Linked DNA regions of Homo sapiens. The protein of the gene in region 1 interacts with the protein of each later gene in a pairwise test. Each region holds a gene or a part of one and is shown in the gene's direction. Other genes may lie near its edges.

Region 1 (4,603 bases):
AAACAGATGCCTGTGTTTAGTCCGAGCTAATATGCAAAGGGACCTAGTTTTAAAATTCCTTAGCTGCTCCGCAAAGAAGAGCGCTGCCAAAGCTATGTTGTGTGCCTTCCCATATTTCACAAGTAACAAAATAATTCACAGAAAACACATAGAAGAACAGAAAGGAGAAATCTCTTCCCAGGGACTATCTGATTATGTAGATTAGAACTCACGAATATGGTATTTTCTAATTTAGGAGGGAGAGAGTAAACAAATAAATGTTCCAGGGCAGTCAACCACATGCCCCATTGATATTCCGTGTGAAAGTGTCTCTGGCCTAAGGCACCTGGTTTGTTTGCTTTTTGTCCCGTCCTGGGAGACGTGTCGCCTATAATAACAACGCTAATTATAATGAACAATAAATGATAATTTATGGGTTACCAAGGACCAAGAAGCTCTGGGAGTCTTCATTAAAACAACAGCACTACAACCTCTGGAGGTACGCCGTAATTATTAGATGTTTACGTACCCTCATCAGCGTGCTAAGTTTTTATTGAAAAGCCCCTCCTTCAGTCCCTCCTGAATTTTTTTAAATTATGGAAAAATTCCAAGACACAGAACTAGAAAGAATACTGTAATGCAGCCTCGAGTACCCATCACCCAGCTTCGACCCTCAACTTTTTGCCTATCTTATTTCACCTCTCTTCTCCATTTTTTTTTCTCTTGGACTGTAAAATTTTAAAGCAAATACCCAAACTTGTAGCATTTATTGAATATTTTAGTAAACGCCCCGACAATGTTATAATAATTTGGTGGGTTATTGCAAAATGGAACGCCAAGACAAAATAAAGAAGGAATGTAGAAAACTCTCCCGTGGCTGAAAAGGCTGTCACAAAGGTTAGCTGTTAGGAGAAGCGCCGCGAGCGTGACATTCCCCCAAGAAAGGCGGAGGCAGCCAGGCGAGAAGGCACAGCCCCGCAGGGCAGGTAACTGAATACCTTCTCCGCTGCACACCCAGGCATGCGCAATCCAGACCCTGGAGTTGCTAAGGCCCCAAGGCAGAGAGAGGCTCAGGCTACGGAGAAAGCCAATCAGAGGGCTCCAAGACTGATAAGTTAGCCAATCCAGATTCGAGGGTGAATCAGGTCCTCAGCATGCCCATCGCCCCACCCGCATCCAATCAGAGAGCCGGCTACTTTGGGCGGACTTTTCAAAACAGCGAAAACAAAACAAATCGGGGACCTTTAAAAGGCGTAATGAGACCAGAAACGATCTCCTTCCGCCCCTCTGTCTTCCCCCGTTCCCCAACGCAGATCAATCGCGGAATAAGCCCGACGCCCAGATTCCGCTCTCCGCCCTAGCGCCAGGCGGGAGGACTGGCTCGGCAAAGCCAAGGAGAGCTAGGGAGGCCGCGAGAGAGGCTCGAGACGGCAGCTTAGGGGCGGGACTCTTTTTTAAAGTCCGTGGAGGAAGTGCAGGATCCCTCCGCGGGGAGTCACGTGCCCCGCCCCCTTGGGGGCGTCGAAACTCTTAACAAAAACAAGGGGCTCGGGGAGGTTTCCGCTGAGGCGGCGGGGGTGCGGCGGTGGGCTGGTCTTCCGCGGCCGGCGTTGCGCCGCGGCGGAGGGTGGGCGCGCGGGGAGCGGGATGGAGCCGGGGCTGTGAGGCCGAGGCGGCGGTGCCTGGGAGGAAGGGTCGGATGCCGGACCGGGGGCACCGCTGAGGCGGTGGGTCCCCGACCTGCGAGACAGGTTTGGAAGCCCCCGCTGCGCCCAGTCCGTGCGGACCGCGAGGCCGCGGGCGGGTGGAGGCGCGTCTCCGGCACGGTGAGTGGACCCGCCCAGGGCCGCCGTGGGTTTCTTTGTTCGTGGTGGGGACTGTGGGCTTTGAGGAGGTTGGTACCATGCGAGTGCCTCGGTGCTGCCTGCTCCTCATCCGCTGGAGCGACCAGGGTGCTGCCCTCAGCCCCAGCCCCGGGGGGAGCTGGCGCCCGCGATGGACAGATAGATGCTCGTGGGGTGGAAGGAGGTTGCGACTAGGTTAAGGGCAGTCTCCGCCTCGGTGCCCCCCGCCCCCGCTCGTGTTGTCACGGGGACTTGCTGGCGTGGTGCTTCTCGAATTGACAGCCCCGGGGCTCTGCAGAGTTGTGGGGCCCCGGCATCAGTGGGTGGACGGGTGTTGTCCCTACGGGCGCGGGGCGGGCGGGCTGGACTGGACTTCTCTCCCCGGACCGTAGCCGGGTGTGCCGCGCCACCCCAGGGCTCCTGGGACGGGGGTATCCGCCTCTCGGGTAAGTCCGGAATCGGCGCTGCAGCAGCGGACGGGAAAAGCTGGGGGCGGGACTCTCCGAGAGGGGCTTCTGCAGCTGGGCGCCCCGGGCGGGCGGGGCTCGGGAGTCTCCTCCCTCCGCTTCTTTGTTCAGTCGCGAGACTCTCCCTCCCCTCCCCCCTATTGTGCAACACCCCATCCCCGGGACCCGCTGCAGTCGCTCGCCACACTGCAGTCCCCTGGGCAGAAGGCCCTCCCTGGCGCGACTTCAGGTGGGGCAGACCGAGGGGACGCCGGCGCCCGCGGACAGTTTCCTGTTTGTGAAACGCCAAGAGGCCAGGGCTGGCCGGTCTTACCCAGCGCTGGCCGGCGGACCTGACCACGGCTCCTCCCCCTGCCACACCTCCCTGGCCGTGGTGGGGATTGCCCTGGGGCTCTGGCGGACGTGACTGGTCCCTTCACCCGCTCCTTGTCGGGGTGTGCTGGGGCGACCCTTGCTGGAGGTACTGGCCTCAGCCCTTTCTCCCGCTTCCCCACCCCTCTTACCCCCAGATTACATTCTCTGTGTGGTGTCTTTACTGCAGATGAAGGATTTGGGGGCAGAGCACTTGGCAGGTCATGAAGGGGTCCAACTTCTCGGGTTGTTGAACGTCTACCTGGAACAAGAAGAGAGATTCCAACCTCGAGAAAAAGGGCTGAGTTTGATTGAGGCTACCCCGGAGGTAAGTTGGCAGAAAAGATAACTTGCTCAAGCAGCTGATGGGGCTTGGAGGAGGTAACCCCCCCGCCCCCGTTGAATCATGACTAAAGCCTGCAAAATTTCTTAAAAGTTGTTCTTTCTGGAGTACCAAGATAAACCTTATTACAGGTTAATGCTTTTGTTTCTTAGCAAGAATGAGAGTGATACTTTAGAGAAGTGGGGTTTTTTGTTGTTGTTTTTAATGTGGCACCCTCCTCGCTGCCCCCCATACTCCAGCCTGCAGCTTCAGGATGGGAGACCCCGGGTGAATTGAGTAGTTCATTTGTGCAAACACCCTCTGCCTGTGAAATACATATTTATAGTAGAATCTTAAATGACTTTAGAAAAGCAAACAAAAGAACCCTTTCTCTCCATTCCAAGGGAATTGAATTATATTTGCTATAACTCTCTGAAATCTTGCAACAGTTCACCTTATATTGAATTGCTGAAGCTCTTTTATGATGCGTATTTTTAAGAAGCAGTGATTTACGTCTTACAGATGATAAAGTGTATAGCTTTAGTTAAGCGATACCACTCTTTCCACCTATATTCTTGAAGATTGAGGGAAAAAAATTAACCTTATTCTTGGGAAAAAATTAACCTTATTCTTTGGACCTGTATGTGTTTTTCATCTGGTTCTAAGAAAATTGTAAACCTTGGTTCTTGGTTTTTATTGCAGAATGATAACACTTTGTGTCCAGGATTGAGAAATGCCAAAGTTGAAGATTTAAGGAGTTTAGCCAACTTTTTTGGATCTTGCACTGAAACTTTTGTCCTGGCTGTCAATATTTTGGACAGGTTCTTGGCTCTTATGAAGGTATTTCATCATTTTTATAAATATGTCTTCCTTTTTCTATGCCCAGTGCCTAGCACACAGGGTTCAAGAAATATTTATCGAATGGGTATAATAACGTCCACTGTACATAAAAATTTATAATCAGAATTGTGATCGTTAGTGCCAGAATAAGACTACAAGATTAATTGTATTGTTGTATCTTAGGTTTTTCTGTTGTGTCTTAGGTTTTACCTCTTAAGTACTTTCTCTTGAATATGTGACAAAAGAGAGACTACTATTTTTTAGGTATTTGCCATATATTTATAGTCCTCAATATAAGATTTCATCTGCCATCATGCTTCTCTTGAAGCCAGATTTTTAAAATACTGAAGCATGACAAATGAAGTATAACAGTTTATTAAATATGACCGGCTGCCTTCCCTAGAAGTCTCTTCAAAGCAGGGAGCCATGGTTTTATTAACAGTCACCAGCAATGGCTAGAAAAATGTGGGGAATCTTCTGCCAGTAGGATTGCTGTCAGCTGCTGGGTCAGTTCTCAGGGCACTGAAAAGAAAAGGGCCGCCATCTGTCCATGGCAGCTTTTACATATGTCCCACTCTGCACAACTCGTGATATTTCTCTTGGGCAAAATTACATTGAAATATGGAATGACTCTTAAAGATTTTTATGTAAAAAGATAAGTATAAAATATTTTAATATCCCAGTACATTTTTTTTTGGTGTTAAAAAGCTTAATTTATTTTGGGAGAGATTATATTATGAATTTCATAAGTCTGAAATACAAATTATACTTTAGTGCTAGGAATCTAGCTTTTGAACCTG
Region 2 (4,405 bases), on another chromosome or scaffold:
GTTTCCCTGATGGTGAAGAGGAAAGGCTGGAGAGAAAAATCTGCTGATAAGCCAGGGCTAGAAAAAGTCTGATACCAAGTCCTGGAGAGGATGTGGAACCTCAGGAGCCCCTGTGTGCAGCTGTCTCAGTGTGCACTGGTAAAAACACTCTGGCAATATGCCAAAAAGGCAAAGCTGTATATGGGATGCCCCAGCAATTCCACTCCTAGGTGTAGGTGTATACTCTAGAGAAATGCCTACATAGGTGCCCCAGGAGATGTGTGCAAAAATATTCATAGCAGCATTGTTTGTTAGACCTAAAAATGAAAAATAACCTACATTTCCTCAATGTCATGCATGCATCTAATGGAATACTATGTTACACAGCAGGTGAAGTCAATTAACTAGAGCTGGGCATACCGTATGGATGAATCTCACTAACAAAAACTATTCAGCAAAAAAGAGCAGATTGCAGAAGAATAAATACAGTGAGTAGGACAAAACCAACGACATATTGCTTAGAATGCATATGTAAGTATTTGCATAAAGAATATAAAGAAGTCTGGGCCTGATAAACACCAATTTCAGCAGGCGGAAGTGGAAGTGCACAGGGAGCTTCAACAGCTTATTTTTTAAACTGGTGATGAGTGAAGAGTACTGGTTATCTTATTCTTTATAACTTCTGTATATTTGAAATGCAACATTTTTTAAAGAGCCAGGACTTGAGGAGAGTCATATAAAGGAGACTGAGATGCCAGGGACAATTTCTACTCGTGGGAAGATTCAGAGTTGTTCCTGTCATTCCCTGGAACCCAGAATCCAGAGTCAATTAGTTAAAGACTCTGACATCTGCTAGGCGGGAGGCAAGAGACCTAACAAGGTAAGGCTAGGGGGATGAGAGGAGGGAAGGACGCTCTCATGCTGCCCCTCTTTGATCTGAACCCAGTTACTGGCCTGCGCGCCAGCCCTGGGCTGCAGATAATGCCAGGAGAAAACAGCTGGGCAGTCCTGGGAAGCCTGGGAGGGATGCAGAGGAGGGCGGGGGCCACACACGCTGGGAGGTGCACTAAGGCTGCTGCCCCCACACAGTGACAAGCGCTTCCTCGCAAACCACCTGGCACGGGCACCCTGACAGTTTACAGCACTGTCTCTCACTCTCCTTCTCTCTCTCTCTCTCACACACACACACACACACACACACACACACATACGCCCCATCCACCGCCCGCTCTGACCAGGACCCCAGCGTTGGGGATGCGGCCAAGTCAGCCAGCTGTGGGCCCTGCCAACCCTCCCTCTCTTCTAGGACTGGGTTTTTCCAGCCGGAGTCTCACTCCCTCTACAGCAATCTCGGGAAATTGGAGACTGACGCGGCTGCTCCTGCATGTTATTTATTTTTCCTCTTTCCCTCCCGTGGAGACCCTCCTGTTGGAAAGAGAGCTGCAGCACGGGACAGAGACAGGCAGGAAGAAGCAGAGAGGACTCGGTGACGCCCCCACCGAGCAGCCCCTGGCCCACTCCTCCAGCAGGGGCCATGAGCACCAAGCAGGAGGCCAGGAGAGATGAGGGAGAAGCCAGGACGAGGGGGCAGGAGGCACAGCTTCGAGACCGAGCCCACCTGAGCCAGCAGCGCCGGCTCAAACAGGCCACCCAGTTCCTGCACAAGGACTCGGCCGACCTGCTCCCGCTGGACAGCCTCAAGAGGCTCGGCACCTCCAAGGACTTGGTGAGGCATCACCCCTCCCCTGCCAGCGTCCCCTGGCCTTTTCCTTCCACTTCCCAGATCCTGAGCAGGAGGCAGGACCAGAAAGTGCAGACCCTCAGCTTTCAGGTCCCGCTCCCTTGCTGAGATGGGGAGAGGTCATCCTGCCAACTCAAGGCTCTTCACCGGGGATGTTCCCATGGTTTGGTGGCTCTGAGGGTTCCTATTCTCTCATTGCTTGGCTTCCCTTTTTCCTCTAATGGCCCCAAACTTGAGGGTGGTGAGGAGCTAGGCTGTTTAGAAGTGGGGGCTTACAGGAACACAGGAACCCTCTAGAGTGGTCACTTACAACCAGGAGGGCCTGGAGGACTGGCCAGTTTAGGGTTGTGACTTCCTGCTTCCCCCGAACCACAGGTTCCCCAGACCAGGTCTGTCTATCCACTTGTCCTTTCTCCTCAGAATCAAAACATCGGGGGTCTCCATCCTTCCCAGGGCATCAGGGTTTTGTGTGGCTCTTGCCGGGGGCCCCTGGCCGCCTTGAGTGCTGCTCCCCCAACTCCTGAGTGGAATGGACCTTCCAGGCTCCTCTCCTCCCATCCCATGTCTGCAGCAGCTTTGGCCTCAGAGGAATGGGGCAGGGGAGTAACAGTGAGGATGTGAGTGGGCGGCGGAAAACTGCAGATTCAGGCATTCCCCTCTGAGAGGCAATGCTGACAAGCGGGGCTGCGCAGCCACTTCGCTTGGGATCAGATCCTGGCTCTGCCATTTACTAACTTGTGCAATTGACTTTACGTCTCTGTGCCTCAGTTTCTTCATCTGTTAAATGAGAATCAAATCAATCATAGGATTGTTGGGAGAGTTGTTAGAGCTAATATATTTAAAGCACTTAGAACAGTGCCTAATAGCAGGCACTATCTAAATGCTATTATTATTATTCCCCCAGCTATTACTCCATTTAGTCTGAGAAATATTCCTGGCCTCTGACCCGTGGAAGAGAGGAAATCCTTTGTAGAAAGGCTTGGGAGCACTCGGTTCCCTGTCCCCTCTCCTAGTCTGAGAAGAGGTACTCAACCAGGCCTGTACTGACAGGTTGGAAGCATGTCTGCAGGCCTGTGCTCCACCAACTGCTTCTCCCCGGGAACCTGAAGGCCAGTGCAGCACCTCGCCTTTCCCTACTTAGCTCCACCTTTCCAGACTCCTCTCAGCCTGGGTTGCCCCCACCAGGACCACAGCCCAGAGGTCTGGCAATTCCCTAGCTCCCAACGAGAAAAGGGATTGCACTGAGACTTAATTCAGGGAACTGCCAGGGGCTTATTCCTACTTGCAGTGGCAGCAAGCATAGCTGAAAAACAGGGATGGAGCAGGGAAGCGGGTTCTTCGGCTCTCAATGGCTGGAACCTACTGGGGACCATCCTACATGTGTTTGGCCCCAGGAGAAGGTGCTCTACTGACATTGCCATCCCGGAGTGGCAGGTCCCGCCTTCTAATGAGAAAGTCCCGGGCTTTTCACCTCTCCCCTCTGCCTAGGATATCCCCAATTGATCCCTAGCAGTTACCTCCTATGGCTCTGGGAGCAAAGGCACAACAGGCAGGGAAGACCCCATCGTCTCCCTCCCTGGGATGGCTGAGGAGCAAACTGCACAACAGCGGGAGGGGCCTGAAGCCTGTGTTCATCGTGGGAAGGTGGAAGATGGGAAGTGCAGAGCCAGTCTCTCCAGCCAATCCCAGAGCTCGCTGAACTTTTCCCAGCACTGGGTCTACTGCTGGCAGCCTTGCTGCCAGGAGCAACCCCAAGGGCCTCATTAATCTAAGGGTAGAAAAACAATCCCAGGATCCCAAGGAGAGAGGGCAGGTGGAGAGGTGCATAGAGCCTGGGGGAAGAGTCAGTCTGCAGCAAGCATTTATTGAGTGCCTACTAGATGCTGAGCCATGCCCTGGGATATAAAAATGAGTGAGGTAGACTCAAGCGCTCTCCAGGCTAATGGGGGAGTAAAATCCATACATAACATTTGTGAGAAGCATGGAAAAGGGAGCTAAGACAAGGGACCCCAGCTTGGCGTGTATGGAGAGAGGAGCATGAAGAACTCAGAGAGGGTATCCTGGAGAGGGTACATCCTGCATTATAGGATGTACACAGAATCTCAAACTTAAGATACAACCTCTCTCTCAAATAAAGTGTGTTAAGCCAGTCATCCAGTCTAGCCTCGAGAAGAGTGAGGAAGAGGAGTTTCAGGAAGAGAGGAGAGAGGAGAGAGGAGTGAAGACATGGAGGCAAAAAGCGGCCTGGTATGAGCGGTGCTTCTGGGGCCCATAAACAGAGTGGCAGGGAAGGAGGCACGGCCCGGTCATGTGGACTGTGGATCACCTTCAAAAGCTTGAGCTCTATCATGAAAGCAATGCGGGGTAGGGTGGGGGGTCTTTGATGCATTTTAAATAAGAGAAGACATGGTTAGTTTCATGTTTTACTTTGGTGCTTCTCAAACTTTAACCTGCACATGAATCACCTGGGGATCTTGTCACAATGAAACATCTGATTCGGTAGGTATGAGAGTGCATTTTTAAGAGGCTTCGAAATGATGTTAAAGTTGCTGATCTGAGGACCACATTTTGGAGTAGCAAGGTTTTTAGCTTCCAGGCTGAAGCTCCAAGCAGATGTATTTGAAAGGTAACAGGTCTGGAGACAGGTTATGAACTTAAGAAGGTGTTCCAAGGATCCGAGAGAGC

What was found.
Region 2: the proteins of CCNG2 (region 1) and NRIP2 interact in a two-hybrid assay, tested with the Homo sapiens proteins (one large-scale study listed by BioGRID and IntAct).

Annotation. Positions count from the first base shown.
Region 1 is NC_000004.12:77,155,702-77,160,304, forward strand, and holds the start of CCNG2 (cyclin-G2), read left to right. Parts: upstream 1-1,505; 5' UTR 1,506-1,805; exon of another isoform or gene 1,806-2,363; intron 2,364-2,462; exon of another isoform or gene 2,463-2,750; intron 2,751-2,831; coding exon 2,832-2,969; intron 2,970-3,665; coding exon 3,666-3,803; intron 3,804-4,603. UniProt on the Homo sapiens protein: May play a role in growth regulation and in negative regulation of cell cycle progression.
Region 2 is NC_000012.12:2,831,942-2,836,346, reverse strand, and holds the start of NRIP2 (nuclear receptor-interacting protein 2), read left to right. Parts: upstream 1-1,311; 5' UTR 1,312-1,363; coding exon 1,364-1,705; intron 1,706-4,130; exon of another isoform or gene 4,131-4,405. UniProt on the Homo sapiens protein: Down-regulates transcriptional activation by nuclear receptors such as NR1F2.